Regions from separate parts of the Homo sapiens genome. Here region 2 is linked to region 1. The links come from fine-mapping of genetic effects on plasma protein levels. Region 1 holds a variant in brackets. A gene starts in the other region. All regions are shown on their reverse strands. Region 1 overlaps ACKR2 (atypical chemokine receptor 2). Region 2 holds the start of CCL11 (C-C motif chemokine ligand 11).

Evidence for each region. A credible set is the group of variants that fine-mapping cannot tell apart. PIP is the chance, under the fine-mapping model, that this variant and not a neighbour inherited with it causes the effect. The UK Biobank Pharma Proteomics Project read protein levels with antibody pairs (Olink). The fine-mapping took linkage between variants from a reference panel, not from the people measured, so its PIPs are less certain.
Region 2: it holds the start of CCL11, and the variant in region 1 is the best candidate, but not a certain one, in a credible set for the plasma level of the CCL11 protein (UK Biobank, PIP 0.60).

The regions. Positions count from the first base shown.
Region 1 is chr3:42,831,778-42,840,116 of GRCh38, reverse strand. All of the region lies in intron 2 of ACKR2 (atypical chemokine receptor 2), which reads right to left. It overlaps LOC124909373 (a long non-coding RNA gene), which reads left to right. Exons shown (of 2, transcript XR_007095895.1): 2 at 4,158-6,386. Among named protein-coding and RNA genes, the nearest start is that of ACKR2, 27 kb to the right of the region's middle. RefSeq lists a silencer at 3,206-3,500 and an enhancer at 3,206-3,500. The variant G/AACAG (reference allele first, on the strand shown) is at 4,914.
Region 2 is chr17:34,281,989-34,290,327 of GRCh38, reverse strand. CCL11 (C-C motif chemokine ligand 11) reads right to left here and starts at 4,586. Exons shown (of 3, transcript NM_002986.3): 1 at 4,444-4,586; 2 at 3,121-3,232; 3 at 1,994-2,743. The coding sequence starts at 4,519. The coding sequence ends at 2,638.

The DNA of each region.
Region 1 (8,339 bases):
GGCTAATTTTTTTTGTATTTTTAGTAGAGACGAGGTTTCACCATGTTGGCCAGGATGGTCTCAATCTCTTGACCTCGTGATCCACCCGCCTCGGCTTCCCAAAGTGCTGGGATTACAGGCGTGAGCCACTGCGCCCGGCCTGCTCTATTTCATTTCTGAGCCCAGGATCTGCACCCACACCCAAAATTAGCTGCGACTATCAGAGACTCCCAAGACAGACCAGACATCTTGCTATTATATTTTAAGCCTTTACATGCACTTCTACATTTGTCCACTGGATGGGACTGGTTCACATTCTAAACACCGCAGCCCAACAGGGCAGAGTCAGAACTTCACTCAGAGAGCTGGAGCATCCGATCATCCTCTCCTGCCTCTCCCATCTCACTCAGATTTATTTTTATCTTTTCAAATACAGCCTGATGTACCAAAAAGTTCTCACTTTGTGCGCCTTTCCAGTAACCTACCACCCTAAGTATGGTAGCAACTCTCCTGACTTCTAACATTACAAGTTAGCTTCTAAAAATGCTAACCGGTCGTATAGAACATATTCTTTTGTGTTGGTTTCATTTGTTCAACATTATGTTTGCGAGATGACGTGCAGTTGCAGTTCATTCATTCTCATTGCTTCAAAGGCTCCATTGGGCAAATATGCAAAAAATGTATTTGTATCCTCATCTATTGCCTTGGCATTTGAGTAGTTTCCAATTTGGGGTTTGCTTTGCTGCTGCACTGTTGATGGGAGTTATCAGCCCTTCAAACCACCCAAGATTGATTCGGAGCTCCAGACTGATGATGCCACACACTCATCAGGAGGATTTGAAAAGAGTTACTACTCACGTAATGAGGCTTTCTGGGGACAGCAGGGCCCACACTCAAGCAAAAGAAGGGGCACGTGGCTCTGGTTTTTATAGTGGCTGGGCAGAGGGCAGGTGCGTCCAGGATGAAGGATCCCTCTCCCACAGGCTGGAGTTTGTGTGGTTTGAACTGCCCGTCTGCACCAAGGAAGGGAGCACCATGAGCTACCTGTAGGCATGTCCAGGTGTGGAGAAAATGAGAAAGGGGAGTGATGGGGCTTGAAAGCTGTCATAGTAAAACATCAAAAATTGAGTCAGACTCTTTATTCCAGAGTTATTACAAATGTGCTGCTATGAGCATTCTTATTCAAGTCTTTTCTGTTGGGTATGTTTCGAGGACGTTTGACTTTGGCAAATACTACCAAACAGTTTTTCAAAGTGTCTGCAGCAAATTACATTCCCTCTAGCAACATTTACAGATGCACCACAGTTTAATCCATTCTGTAGCTGAGGGACATTTGGTTTGTCTCCAGTTTTTTTGTAATCAACAAATAAATCTGCCACAAACATTCACGTGCAGATCTTTGTGTGAACATAGGTTTTCATTTCACTTGGGTAAATACTTAGGAATAGAGTGACTATGTTGAATGGTAAGCGTATACTTAACTGTGTAAGAAACCAGTCAAACTGTTTTTCCAAAAGTGACCATACCATTTTTGCATTTCCACCCACAAAATATGAGAGTTACAATTGTTTCACATTCTCCTAAGTTCTTGGTATGGTCAGTCTTTTTACTTTTAGCCATTATAATGAATGTGAAGTAGTATCTCATTGTGGTTTCAGTTTGCATTTCCTTATGAACTAATGACATTGAACGTATTTTCATATGCTTCCTTGACATCCCTATATCTTCTTCAATGAAAGTGTTTTTTCACATATTTTGCCCATTTTTTACAAAATTGGGCTGTGTGTTTTCTTACTATTGAGTTCAGAGGATTATTTCCATATCCTTTATAAAAAGTCTTTTATCAGATATATGATTTGCAAATATTTTCTCCTAGTCTGTGTCTTGTGTTTTATTCTCTTAGTGTCTTTTGAAGAGCACACATTCTTAATTTTGGTGAAGTCCAAGTAATTGACTTTTTCTTTTATGGATTATGCTTTTGGTGTCTTAACTAAGAAATCTTTGCTTACCCTAATGTCATAAAGATTTTTTTTCTCTTATGTTTTCTCCTAGAAATTTTATAATTTTAGGTTTTACTTTTAGGCCTATGATTGATGAGTCTGTATTAGCAAACCTTGGAAGGCTATTTGAAAGAGGTTTCTGATAATATAAATTTATGTATCTTCAGTGTCCAGTAAACACTGAAAATACATAAAGAGGGTCATATTTCTGTACATAAAGTCAAATGTTAAGGATTTCTGCTAATTCAGAATTTAACTTTCAAAATAAATGGCATGGAAGTCCAGGGAGATGGGGGCTGATTTCCTCTTTGTATACTCCCTTTTATAGATGTATTGCCTACAGCGTATATTTAATAGTGTGACAGTTAATTTTAGATGTCAACTTGACTGAGTTAAGGAATACCTAGAAACCTCATAAAGCATTATTGTGGGGTGTGTTTGTGAAGGTGTTTCCGGAGGTGATCAGCATGAGAGTATGAGTGGACTAATGTGGGCGGGCACCATCCAATCTGCCAGGGACCTGGAGATAACAAAAACAGAGAAAAGGTGATCTGCATCCATCTATCTGCTGGAGCTGGAATACACTCTTAGTCTCCTGTCAGAACTGCAGGCTCCCAGCTGGTCGCAGTGGCTCATGCCTCTAATCCCAACACTTTGGGAGGCTGAGAAGAGAGGACTTCTTAAGCCCAGGAGTTTGAGAACAGCCTGGGCAACACAGTGAGACCCCATCTCTAAATATATATATATTCAAAAATTAGTCAGGCATGGTGGCATGCACCTGTAGTCCCAGCTACTCCGGAGGTTGAGGTGGGAGGATCACTTGAGCCTGTGAGGGTGAAGCTGCAGTGAGCTGAGATTGCACCACTACACTCCAGCCTAGGCGACAGAGTGAAACCCAATCTTCCAAAAAAAAAAACTTCAGGCTCCCCAGCCCCTGGACTCCAGGACTTAATACCAGTGGCCCCCCTGCTTCTCAGGCCTTTGGCCTTAGACTGACAGTTACACCATCCGTTTCCCTGGTTCTCAGGCCTTCGGGGCTTGGATAGAGCCATGTTTCCAGCATCCTAGGGTCTTGCACATTATGTCCCAAGGGTGAAATAAACACAATCAGATAACTTTAAGGAAGATGCCAAATCCTGTGTTACACCAACCATTGAGTTGTCAGACAACCACTGCAAAAGACATTTGAAAGAGAAACACGGTGATCAGAGGTGGGGAAGAAGGACCTTCCTGGTAGGCACCAGTAAACTATGACAGTAAGCAAGATGATGACTTAAGAGTCCAGCAGTCAGTATTAGCCCAGCCCATTTCATACACTAGTCCTGAGGTTATTTATCTGGCATCTCCACACAGTCCTAGGAAACTTATCTGTAGTCTTCACTCAGTCCATCTTGAATGCCACACAGTAACTCCCTTTCCTTTCTTGGCTAAAACTGTCGCAGGGCTTTGGCAGACTCTGAATTGTATTCAAGTTCACCTTGTGCACTGCTGGTTGTGCACCTTGTGGCTTGTCACCCTCCTATCCTCAAGAATGGTCTAGAGCCCCACAGAGTCATGACAATGGTCAACAGAACGCCACAGGGCCCTTTCCATCTGAGTTGTTTCTCTGGATTTCTTTTAATAGACCCTGGTATACTGCTGGAATAGAGGTGCCGTATGGAGTCTAGGGTGGTCTGGGCTGCAAAGGAACACAGAACCTAAGTGAGGACTTGATAATAAGAAAGCAACAGACAAGTAAGAAACCTCTTGGGGTTGGAATGCCAGCTAGATAACCATGTTGATATGGCCTGAGTCCCAGGATCTGGTGGATTGTGGAATTGCAGCTCTAGGGTTCATCTTGATCCTTGGAAGAGATTCAGGGCACTTAAAGCCTTATTACAAAGTTTTATTTAGTTTTGCTGGTGCTACAGTTTTGCTTTTATCTCATCACAACTTTGGAGGTGGGAGAGAGGTGTGGTTTGTAATTTATATATATGTTTGGAAAATTGTTCCATAATACGTGAATTACTCTCAGTTTAGATATGAGATTTTTCTGGGGAGGAATGCATTCCTGGAGCAGTTCTTCTGACTGTAGTAATACCTGCCTTTCTCAGGGGTTGCCTCAGACTACCCAGAGAATAAGCATAACACAACTCAGACCTGGCAGACAGCTTCTAATGCACCAATCATCTCTTCTAGGGTGCTTCTATGATGCTCCTTCACCCAACTGTACCCCATAGTAAGATGCCCAGGCTCGGGTGGGCAGAAGGAGGAAGGAGGGACCTGGGAACCACGAGTCACCCATTTCAGTGGAGGTTGAATACGCAGAATCAGGAAGCACAGAAATCCACACCCATATCATAATGAAATTGCAGCACACCAAAGGCAAAGAGAAGATCTTTAATGCAGCCAAGGAAAAAGCACAGATTACAGAGAGCAGACGCTGAGACTGAGAGTAGACTTCGTAGTGGCCACAGTGGGAGCCGGAAGCCATGGGATACAGTGAGTGTGACTTGGGACTCTTCACCATCAAATTAGAATCAGGAGTTGAAATTGATGGTTGTTCAAGAATCTGCTCACGGTAAAGGGCATTTCCAGATGGGAAACAGAATTTATCACAACACGAAACTCAGGAGAGTGAGACTCAAGGAACTCACTGAAGAACGTACTTCCAGCAGAAGGAGAGTGGTCCTGGAGAAAGGGTGTGATTCTGAGATAGGCAGATGAACAGAGCAGTCAGTGAAGACGTGAGCAACGGAAAGCAACGTGGACTCTAAAGCTCTGTTAACTGGGTGACCCTGGTTATCTGGGTTGCGGGGAGAAAAATTAGAGCCCTCACCAACACCACACAGCAAATAAGCTCTGAATGTTTTAAAGCCTAGAAGATGCTATGGGAGAGCATCTTCATGGGCTCTGGAGATGAAAGGCCTTCTTTAACAAGGTCCTAAATGCCCA[G/AACAG]TGAAGGAAAACATTAAGAAATTCAGGCCGATCGTGCTGGCTCATGCTTGTAATCCCAGCACTTTGGGAGACCGAGTTGGGTGGATCGCTTGAGCCTAGGAGTTCAAGACCAACAAGGCAAAACCCCATCTCTACCAAAAAAGTGCAAAAATTAGCCAAGGGTGGTGGTGCGTGCCTGCAGTTCCAGCTACTCGGGAAGCTGAGGCAGGAGGATCACTTCAACCTGGGAGGCAGAGGCTGCAGTGAGCCGAGATCGGGCCACTGGCACTCCAGCCTGGGTAGCAGAGTGAGAAACTGTCTCAAAAAATAATAATAAAAAAAAAATTTGCCCGGGCACAGTGGCTCATGCCTGTAATCCCAGCACTTTGGGAGGCCAAGGCAGGTGGATCACGAGGTCAAGAGATCGAGACCATCCTGGCCAACATGGTGAAACCCCATCTCTACTAAAAATACAAAAAATTAGCTGGGCATGGTGGTGCGCACCTGTAGTCCCAGCTACTCAGGAGGCTGAGGCAGAAGAATCACTTGAACCCGAGAGGTGGAGGTTGCAGTGAGCCGAGATCACACCATTGTACTGCAGCCTGGCGACAGAGTGAGACTCCATCTCAAAATAAGTAAATAAATAAATTAATTAATTAATTAAAAAATTAAAATAAAAAAAATTACCCAGACATAGTGGCTCGAGTCTATAGTCCTACATATTTGTGGGGCTGAGGTGGGTGGATCACTTGAGCCCAGGATGTCAAGGATGCAGTGAGGCATGATCGTGTGACTGTACTGTAGTCTAAGCAACAGAGTGAGACCCTGTCTTCCCTACCGAAAAAAAAGAAAACACACAACATTTATCCATTAGGTTCTCGTCTTATATGGACACCCAAAACAATTGCATAGTAACATCAAAGATCATTGATCACAGATCACCATAGCGGTATAATAATGATAATGTGGCTGGGCACAGTGGCTCACGCCTGTAATCCCGGTACTTTGGGAGGCCGAGGCAGGTGGATCACCTGAGGTCAGGAGTTCGAGACCAGCCTGACCAACATGGCAAAACCCCATCTCTACTAAAAATACAAAATTAGCCGGGCGTGGAGGCGCATGCCTGTAATCCCAGCTACTCGGGAGGCTGAGCTGAATTGCTTGAACCTAGAAGGTGGAGGTTATGGTGAGCCAAGATCGCACCACTGCACTCCAGCCTGGGCAACAAGAGCGAAACTCTGTCTCAAAAAAAATAAAAATAAAAATAATGAAAATGTTTGAAATATTGCATGAATTACCAAAATGTGACACAGAGACACAAAGTGAACACATCCTGTTGAAAAAATGGCTCTTGTAAGACTTGCTCAACACAGGGTTGAAAATCTGGGTTTCTAAAAAAACACACATAATCACTAATATGTTTATCTGTATCCAATAAAAGAAAATGGCCTTAAAATACAATATTAATATGATCAATAAAGCCACAGAAGTCTGGTTTTGTAATGCAGTTTTTTTTTTAAATGATCTCTCAAATCGTCATTCCCACTAAGTAGTATGTGTGGTCAAATCCTATTCTAGAACTGGGCAGTACAGTAGTCACTAGCCATATTTGGCCATGAAGCACCTGAAATGTGACTAGTCTGAACTGAGAAGTACAAGCATAAAGCACATGTCAGATTTCAAAGACAGTACAAATAACGGAATGTAAAATATCTCATTAATAATTAATAATTGTATAGTGTACACTGCTTGGGTGATGGGTGCACCAAAATCTCAGAAATCACCACTAAAGAACTTATGCATGTAATCAAACACTATCTGTTCCCCCAAAACCTATTGAAATAAAAAATACTTTAAAAAATAAAAAATAAAAATAAACAAAATATCTCATTGTTATGTTGATTACATCTTGAGATAATTTGTTTATATTTTGGGTTAAATAAATACATCATTCAAATTAATTTCACTTGTTTCTCTTTAGGGCTTTAATGTTGACTATTAGAAAATTTAAGGCTGGGCAACTTAGTGAGCCCTCATCTCTACAAAAAAATTTATAAATTAACCCAAGCACAGTAGCTCATGCCTGTAATCCCAGCACTTTGGGAGGCCAAGGCGGGCAGATCGCTTGAGCCCAGGAGTTCAAGACTAGCCTAGGCAATGTGGAGAAACCTCATCTCTACAAAAAACACAAAAATTAGCTGGGTGTGGTGGCACATGCCTGTAGTCCCAGCTACTCGGGAGGCTGAGGTGGGAGGATCACTTAAGCCCAGGAGGCAGAGGTTGTAGTGAGCTGAGATTGTGCCACTGTACTCCAGCCTGGGCAACAGAGTCAGACCCTATCTCAAAAAAATAAAAATAGAAAAATTAGCCAGGTGTGGTGGCATGTGCCTGTAGTCCCAGCTACTCAGGAGGCTAAGGTGGGAGAATCGCTTGAGCCTAGGAAGTTGAGGCTGCAGTGAGCCATGATCATGCCACTACACTCCAGCCTGGTCGACAGTGAGACTCTGTCTCAAAAAAAAAATTAAAATGACACATACGGATCATATGGTGGCTCACCTGTTTTTATTGGACAGCACTGGTCTAGAGTATTTCATTGCTGTGCGTTCCGTATGCGGTGATGGAGTGCCCTAATCTGATAGATGAACTGGTGCAGGTTTTTGCATTTTCTTAATTTGATAGCACTACATTTTCTTTTTCTTTTTCTTTCTTTTTTTTTTATTCTTTTTTTGAGACAGAGTATTGCTCTGTTGCCCAGTCACCCAGGCTGGAGTGCAGTGGCGCAATCTCAGCTCACTGCAACCTCTGCCTCCCCAGTTCAAGTGATTCTTATGCCTCAGCCTCCTGAGTAGCTGGGATTACAGGTGCCCACCACTATACCCAGCCAATTTTTGTATTTTTATTAGAGACAGGTCCTCACTGTGTTGGCCTAGCTGGTCTCAAATTCCTGGACTCAAGTGATCTGCCCACCTCAGCCTCCCAAAGTGCTGGGATTACAGGCATGAGCCACCACGCCTAGCCTGATGGCAATGAATTTCTAACAATTAAGGGTCATGACATCTTAAGAGATGGAGGCTTTCTGGTATTAGGCTGTTCTTGGTGCAGTTGCCACTAGAGGAAAGGGGAGGGTCATCTCTATCTTTCCAAAAATCTCAGTCTCCAAAGTTTTGTGTTTCATTTCACTACCATTAAACCATACAATGATTTAATACCAATTCTAAGTACAAAATTCATAGACATAATTTCTGGCTGAATAAATTGGTTCTGCCTCTTTAAATTTCTAGTGATATTAAGGCCCATGTATTTCCCTATGTTCACTTGATTTTGAAACTATCAAACCTTTCACCTACTAGTAATTGCATTTTTGGCATCATGGTCCATGAAAGGAGAGTCAGGAGACAGTAACCACAGTAAGTTGAACAGGGAAAGTTTAATATAAAGATGTATTGA
Region 2 (8,339 bases), not on the chromosome of region 1:
GAGGAATAGGGGATATGAGCAAATTCTGTTCAGTCCTTCACAAACAGAGGGCACCTCTTCCCTCTACTCCCCTTCTTGATCTCCTCGTGAAGACTGACCTGAAACCTGAGGGTCTACTGATCCCAGTGAGCTATTCTGTGGCCATCCCATGCCTCCTGGACATGCTGACCTCTGGAGGTACATCCTGATTGATGTTTAGGGCTAAAGTCTGCTAGGCTATAGGAGAGGCAGAGAGGTTTTTTGTACTCAGAGTGAGGGCCAGTGATTGCTCTGAGTGGGAGCCCTTCTGTAGTAGATACAAAAAGCTCTCTGATGGTTCTAGGGATCCATGCTTCTACTTGCGGCTCTCACAGAGAAATCTTCTAGAAATAGAGTAAGTGTGCCAGTTATCCTGGCCCCTGTCCGACTTGGGCTTGTGAGTGTGGAACCCTCTGACAACATTCCCTCCCTCAATGGGTGGAGGTAGTGATGCTTTCCAAGAGGTAGTGCTCTCAGAACAGGAGATCTTGGTGGGTCATTGGTCAGATCCCTTAAAAGATATTAATATACCCCTATTATGGATGGGGTAACTAAAGCCAAAAGTAACACAGTGACAGAGACCAGTTCTCTGTCTGTGATGAAACTGAGGTCATCTGCCTCCTAGATCAGTGCCCTTCCTAATGTCTCATTCTGTTCTTTATATTGCCTTGTGCCATTGCCACCACACAGTCCAAGGGGGACAGCCTTATGAATGGTGCCTCTGGGAGCTTTGCATGCAGCGACCCTGCTGGGCATGCATGACACAGTAGGCCATTGGCCCTCCAGATCAATGGCCTTAGACCATGCAGAGTTATACCAGCAGGGCACCTGTGACCCTTTTCTACCCTTGGGGACATAGTTGGTCTCTGCGTTCAGGTACATAGGTAATGTGACCAATGGAAACGCAAGCTGATTTTGTATGCTGAAAGGGAATCCTGATTTAAGTTGCTTATACAGGAAGATGAGGTCCTGTCCATTTGATTGAAAGCTCTCAAGCTAGTAAAGTTAAGGTGTGAGTAAACAGTGACAGAGAGAAATTAATTTTCTGGGTCTAAGAAGCTAACCTTTAATTGCAGCTTTGGCATTTAGAAAGTTTCCATGTCATTGGTTCTACTTCTTCAACCACAACATTTGGCATTCCACCCTGCCTCAGCCATTCTTCCAATTATCTTCTCCCCTCCCAACTACCAATGCCCCAGTTCCATATCTTCCATACACTGCAATAGTGAGCTAAGTGCTTCTCCCTTCTCCTCCCAATTCAGCCCATGGCCACCTGGCTGCCCTTCCTGAAGCCCCTCATAGTGTGGTCATGGCACTTCTCTCCACTGAATCAAAACTTGCAATGCATTCTATTCCTAGAGTGACCACATGCTCCAGTTTGCTTAGGACAGTGTTAATTTATATCCGTTGTTCCAGAATAATTATGAATAATACCACTTTTCTGCTCTCAAAAGCATCCTAACTGGGCTGGGAAGAACCATATGTTCACCTTACATGGAGCACAAACTCCCCACCTAGACAGCCTGGTCTCAAACTTCTTTCCAAATTTCCCCACCATTTCACACATACTCCAACACTGACATCTTTTGATGGGCTCCCACCCAACTGGGTAAATGCAGCATGATCATTCCTACTTCTTGGATTTTGCCCAAGCAACACCCCTTCTCCTCTACCTAGACTGAAATACCTCCAGCAGAGCCTCTCCACTTTGTGCATGCACAAGACCCACTTTAAGCTCCACCACACCTGTAAAACCTGCACCTAAACCTCTGGTCAAAGGTCACCTAGCCTTCCTCTGATTTCCAGTGTCTGTCATGTCTGCCTAGTCTGGGTTGGAAGACCGAGGAGCAGGGTCGGGTAGAGGGAGATACCACAGGGCTGTTAAAATAGGTCCCAGGAGAGGCAAGTATGAGGTGGGGAGGAAAGGAATGGTGGCAAAGCTCCAGATATTTTCGTGGCTGAAGTTTGGGGTCTGGGAAATACTGTTGAAAATGGGAATAGAGGGCTGGAATGGGTTTGTCAGTTTCACCCTGCATTTCAATGAAGACCAGCTAAGCCAAAAACTCATTTCCCAGGGACATAGTTCCCACCCCCTTAACCAAGCCCCTCTTGGCCACAGCCATCTTTGTCCCCCTCAGCTCAGTGTGGATTTCCCACAAAAAAATTACAACTAGTGACTATAATAAAATATGCACATACTTTATGTATTCCTAAAACAACATTTACTTCCATTTAATGAGTCACACTTTGGGTTCACAAGAACAATGACATTTTCATACTGATCATCTTTGCCAGGACCTTTACAAGATTCCAGGGAGGAAGAGAGGAGAGGGGGAACATTGCCCACACGTGACAGGGGATCGAATTGGGGCTCCCAGGGGGTAAAGAATCTGCACAAAGCTTTACAGTTTAAAAATAACTGATATTCATGGAGGATAAGTTTTAAAGCCTCAATAAATTAAATGCAATACGTTTTTTTTTTAAAAAAAAAAATATATATATATAATAAAACCCATGCCCTTTGGACTGATAATGAGGTTACCTCAGAATGCATTGTAAGAAGGGAAAACAAATTAGGCAACACTCAGGCTCTGGTTTGGTTTCAAAAATGGTGATTATTTATGGCTTTGGAGTTGGAGATTTTTGGTCCAGATACTTCATGGAATCCTGCACCCACTTCTTCTTGGGGTCGGCACAGATATCCTTGGCCAGTTTGGTCTTGAAGCTGTGGGAGATACAGGATGCAATTGGAAGGATTGTTTTTGAAAATTCTGCCCATTTGACCCTAAATATTTAAGGACCATCTGCCCCTGGACAAAGGGTTGCTACGGAGAGGAGGAAGGATGAGACTCTTGGGTTAGTTGCTGCTCTTAAAGGCCCAGTAAAACCATCTTTGCTCTTGACTTGAAGAAATTGATATGACTACAGCAATCTCCCAGGCAGGGAGCTGGGAGTGAACACTCACTTGTGAAAATTAATGAATTGGACCATAGAGGTCAAACTATCAGAGTCTATGACTCCCAGCAACTGTGACACAGTTCTTGACTCTGTGCCCTAGACATTATTTTTTTGTCTAGGGGAGGGTGAACTTTATTTACTTACATCACAGCTTTCTGGGGACATTTGCCACTGGTGATTCTCCTGTAGCTCTCTAGTCGCTGAAGGGGTATCTTCCTATTGGCCAGGTTAAAGCAGCAGGTGGTTGGGACAGAAGCTGAATTTTGGGGAAAAAAAATGAACAGAGAAAAAAATGAGCCACATGATGATACATAGACATTTCCAAGCATGACTTTGTAAAGGAAGTTAGGAGAAAGCAAGGAATTGCGAGAGGTGGAGGGAGAATCCCTCTGCTCTGAAGTCTTATGTGTCTGGAGGATGCTGTCCTGTGTCTTCAGCATCCTCCCCTGTGCACTGAGGACTCATCATTACTGTAGAGTGTATGGACAAAGCTTGGTCAATGTGACAAATGCTAGCTCTGTCATTATAAAGACCTACGTGGCCATGTGATGGTCATGGTAATTTTCACCAAATATTCTCCATCCTCTGTTTTGAGACACAAGGTAGACTTGCATTTCTTGGCCACTTTTGTTTGGTTGGAGGCATTAATTAGTTTTGATCAATAAAGAAGGAGACAAAGTGATGGGTGTCATTTTTGAGCCACAGTGCATTGCCTATGCAAGACTCCTGAGAGCTTTCTTCTGCTTTATCACAGTATCCATCAATGTTCCCCCACATGGGCAACTTCTCCATCAGTCTAGAATCCTGAGTATAAAATGCAGAAGCCTGAGCCCATACATTATAGATATTTAGTACAAGTGAGAAAGTAACTTTTGTTAATTTAGTTAATTCTGTTAAGTCATTGATAATTTAGAACTGTTTGTTACCATGCTATGCACTGGCTCAGTGGGACCGATACACTCAGTAAATTTGTCACCAGAGTATGGGAAAATGAGTTATGGAACAAATCTCCTAGATAACTTTCCCAAAGAGTGTCAAAATAAGTCACCTCAAGAGATCCCCCTGGGACCTCGTTCTTCTCTTAGCCACTGTCTCTGAAAGCTGTCCTGGAGTCGAATTAACATACTGAGCTTCTAATCAACAGATTTTCCTTCTCTCCCACTGCCAAAAATGCCCACCATGCCCACAGTAAGACAGAGCCATTCCCCATTCCCAAACACTGTAAGGATAGCTGGGTATGGATGCACCCAGCAACCCTCTTGAATGTGGGGAAAAGACTCGGGAGCTTTCTAGTTCTGGCTCTTCCAGTGACTGGATGTGAGGTTGAGGCATTTCTTGTCCACCCACAAAACCTGTTTCCCTATTTTTCAAATGGAGAATTTGCAGTGAGTCTGTAAAGATTCTTGCTGACCTAGTAGCTCTGGAGGTGGTTACCTTACCTTTCCTGTAAGGAGTTGGGGGGCTTACCTGGCCCAGCGAGCCCCTGGGGGCTGAAGGCAGCTGCTATGAGCAGCAGCCACAGAAGTGCTGCGGAGACCTTCATGTTGGAGGCTGAAGGTGTGAGCTTTGGCGTGAGAGGTGGTGGTTTCTGGGTTGGTCTCAGCCTCTCTGCTCCTCTGGCCCATCTGCCTGCCTTTTATAGGGAGCAGACAGTGTGGGAGATTCCAGGGAAGCCTTTGCCCATGCGGGGGTCACGATGAAGGGATTCCTGATTGCTGACCAGATTCCAGATCCTAGGAAGTCAAGCAGAACAGAAGAGAGGCAAGCTAGTAGGAGGGACTTGGTACATTTTTTAATCCATCTGGATCTTGCCTTGGAAAAGGAGGGGAATATGTGGTTATGAAATGAAGTTAAACATCTGTAGTGGGGGAAGAGAGCAAGAAAACCAAGGCCCTAGGGGATGAGTTGAAATGAAACACCTGTAGTTGGGGAAAGGAGCAAGGAAACCAAAGGCCTGGGGGATGAGTCGATCTAAGAACCTTCCTTGATTCCTGTGTTCACATGGTGGTCTTGAGGATTTTGGAGACCAGGAAGGAGCCCCAAAACTTCCATTAGGCTCCCACCCAGATGCAGAGAGAGCTCAGCAGCCCTGCACATAGTTGCATCTCTGAACCAGGAAGGACAACACACCACAGCTTTGCTGCTGTGTTTCAATGTAATGATCACAGAATCTTAGTCCCTGAAATTTTAGCATGATAGGACATCAGAACTGGATAGTTTCTATTAATCTTGACTTCTGAGGCACTTTAAAACCATTTGCTTAGCTGCTAAAGCCCTTTTCCAAATGGAATTAAAACAAACCCCAACTCATCAAATACACTGTAGTGAAGGGGATTTGTTTGAAATAGAATAGGCAGCCTCTCGTGCCCTTATTCCCCAGGGAACACATTTAGGGAACACATTTGGAAAATCAATCATCTAGTTCCCCCCTCACTCTCTGAGCACACATTGCAGACAAGGTATCTGATGGCTAAAAATATCAAAGAGAGAGGCAACACAAGAACCTATACATATCCCTTTGTTCATAACACTAGGCACCCTAGTTGGAGAGGGTATAAGGGAGGCAAAGTCTTTAATGGAGTCACTGCAGCGGATTACAGCATTGAATACTGGTGTGGAGGTACTGCAAACCTGTTTCCTGTTTTTTCCTGCACACTCTCATATCAAATTGATTGATTGGTACAGTAGCACAAACAAGAATGTTAAAGATTCTGAGGAGTTGACTTGCGTTAGTTAAATACTGTGTTGTGGTTGACTGGTGATGTCTGTCATGGGCACAGGATTAGAGACAGCTCTTGCTGTCCTGCAAAGTCTCTAAGTGCCCATCTAGGATAATTGGTCTATAATTACCTAAAAAGTTAACTATAATTACCAAATAGAGGCCAAAAATGTGGAGTCTTCCCTGTTCTTTCCTGCTCCATTCCTGGTGGGTTAGTCTAATGTAGAACCTGAATTCAGGATATCTGCATTTGGATGATGGCTCTGTGACTGACTAGCTGTGATACCATGGACAACTTACTTAACCACTCTCTGCTAGGGTAAGAGCAGGATACTAATCATGTGTACTTTAGGGAATTGTCGTGTGAATTAAATGAGTTCATGTATCTAAACTGCTTAGAAGAATGACTAAATCACTGTAGGTACTCAGTGAGTAGAAGTTACTGTTTTTTATTATTAGGAAATAGGGCCGGGTACAGTGGCTCACACTTGTAATCCCAGCACTTTGGGAGACTGAGGCAGGCAGATCACTTGAGGTCAGGAGTTCAAGACCAGCCTGGCCAACATGGTGAAAACCTGTCTTTACTAAAAATACAAAAAATTAGCCAGCCATGGTGGATGGTGTTTGTAGTCTCAGCTACTCAGGAAGCTGAGGCATGAGAATTGCTTGAACACAGGAGACAAAGGTTGCAATGGGCAGAGATCATGCCACTGCACTCCAACCTGGGCAACAGAGTGAGACTGTGTCTCAAAAAAAAAAAAAAAAGAAGGGCAGATTGGGAATGCTGGAAAGACCTCAGAGTCTGGATATTTCTCCAAATATTCTTCCAAGTTTTCCCACTGCTTCCAAGTAAAGATATGCTACCGCAGGGATGGTTTCCAAGAATGCCTGAGTTGCACATGTGGCAGATACGAAGTTTTAAAAAATTCTCGGCAGAATAAATTTGGAATATTATTGACCTCAGAGGTGTTTGTCTGACGTGGTTTAATGATTGTTTCTGTAGTAAGAATAATTTCATAACTCTGGCGGGAATTTAAAGGAATTATCAGCAAGCGATTATTCATTTTTGTGTTTTCCTTGAAAAATGGCTTTGGAGTTAATGGGCTTTGGATTTACTCTACACCTGAAAAACCTCAGTGGCTCAGTGGAAATAAATAAAATCAATCTTTAGATATCCAAGCTCTGCAGCTGTTTCATCCAGCTCACTGGCCATCCCTAGCAAGCAGGGGCAGCTTCAAGGGCTTTTTCTCTTTCTTTCTTGGAGGCTTTCTTTTCAGCAATGAAGTAGAGTAGACCAATTTCTTGCCTGTGATTTGGTGCCTGATGAATGAGGGGCCTTGATCAGGAATGATCCTGAGTGATGGGCAGGAAATGGATCCCCCCTTGTGAAAACAAAATATTGACTTCTAAAGAGTTTTTTTTCTTTTTTTTAATTGGAAAAGGTATCTTTTATTTTTATTATTATTCTTTAAGTTCTGAGATACATGTGCAGAGCGTGCAGGTTTGTTACATAGGTATACATGTGCCATGGTGGTTTGCTGCACCCATCAACTCGTCATCTACATTAGGTATTTGTCCTAATGCTCTCCCTCCCCTTGCCTGCCATCCACCGACAGGCCCCAGTGTGTGATGTTCCCCTCCCTGTTTCCATGTGTACTCATTGTTCAACTCCCACTTACGAGTGAGAGCATGCAGTGTTTGGTTTTCTGTTCCTGTGTTAGTTTGCTGAGAGTGATGGCTTCCAGCTTCATCCACGTCCCTGCAACGGACATGAACTCATTCCTTTTTATGGCTGCATAGTATTCCATGGTGTATATATGCCACGTTTTCTTTATCCAGTCTATTATTGATGGGCATTTGGGTTGGTTGAAGTCTTTGCTATTGCAAATAGTGCTGCAGTAAACATAACGTGTACATGTTTCTTTACAATAGAATGATTTATAATCCTTATATACCCGGTAATGGGATTGTTGGGTCAAATGGTATTTCTGATTCTAGATCCTTGAGGAATCACCACACTGTCTTCCACAACGGTTGAACTAATTTATACTCCTCCCACCAACAGTGTAAAAGTGTTCCTATTTCTCTACATCCTTTCCAGCATCTGTTGTTTCCTGACTTTTTAATGATTGACATTCTAACTGGCATGTGATGGTATCTCATTGTGGTTATGATTTGCATTTCTCTAATGACCAGTGATGATGAGCTTTTTTTCATATGTTTGTTGATCACATAAATGTCTTCTTTTGAGAAGTGTCTGTTCATATCCTTCACTCACTTTTTGATGGGATTTTTTTTTCTTGTAAATGTTTTTAAGGTCCTTGTAGATTCTGGATATTAGCCCTTTGTTGGGTGGATAGATTGCAAAAATTTTGTCCCATTCTGTAGGTTGCCTGTTCACTCTGACGATAGTTTCTTTTGCTGTGAAGAAGCTCTTTAGTTTAATTAGATCCCGCTTGTCAATTTTGGCTTTTGTTGCCATTGCTTTTGGTGTTTTAGTCATGAAGACTTTGCTCATGCTTATCTCCTGAATGGTATTGCCTGGGTTTTCTTCTAGGGTTTTTATGGTTTTATGTCTTGCCTTTAAGTCTTTAATCCATCTTGAGTTAATTTTTGTATAAGGTGTAAGGAAGGGGTCCAGTTT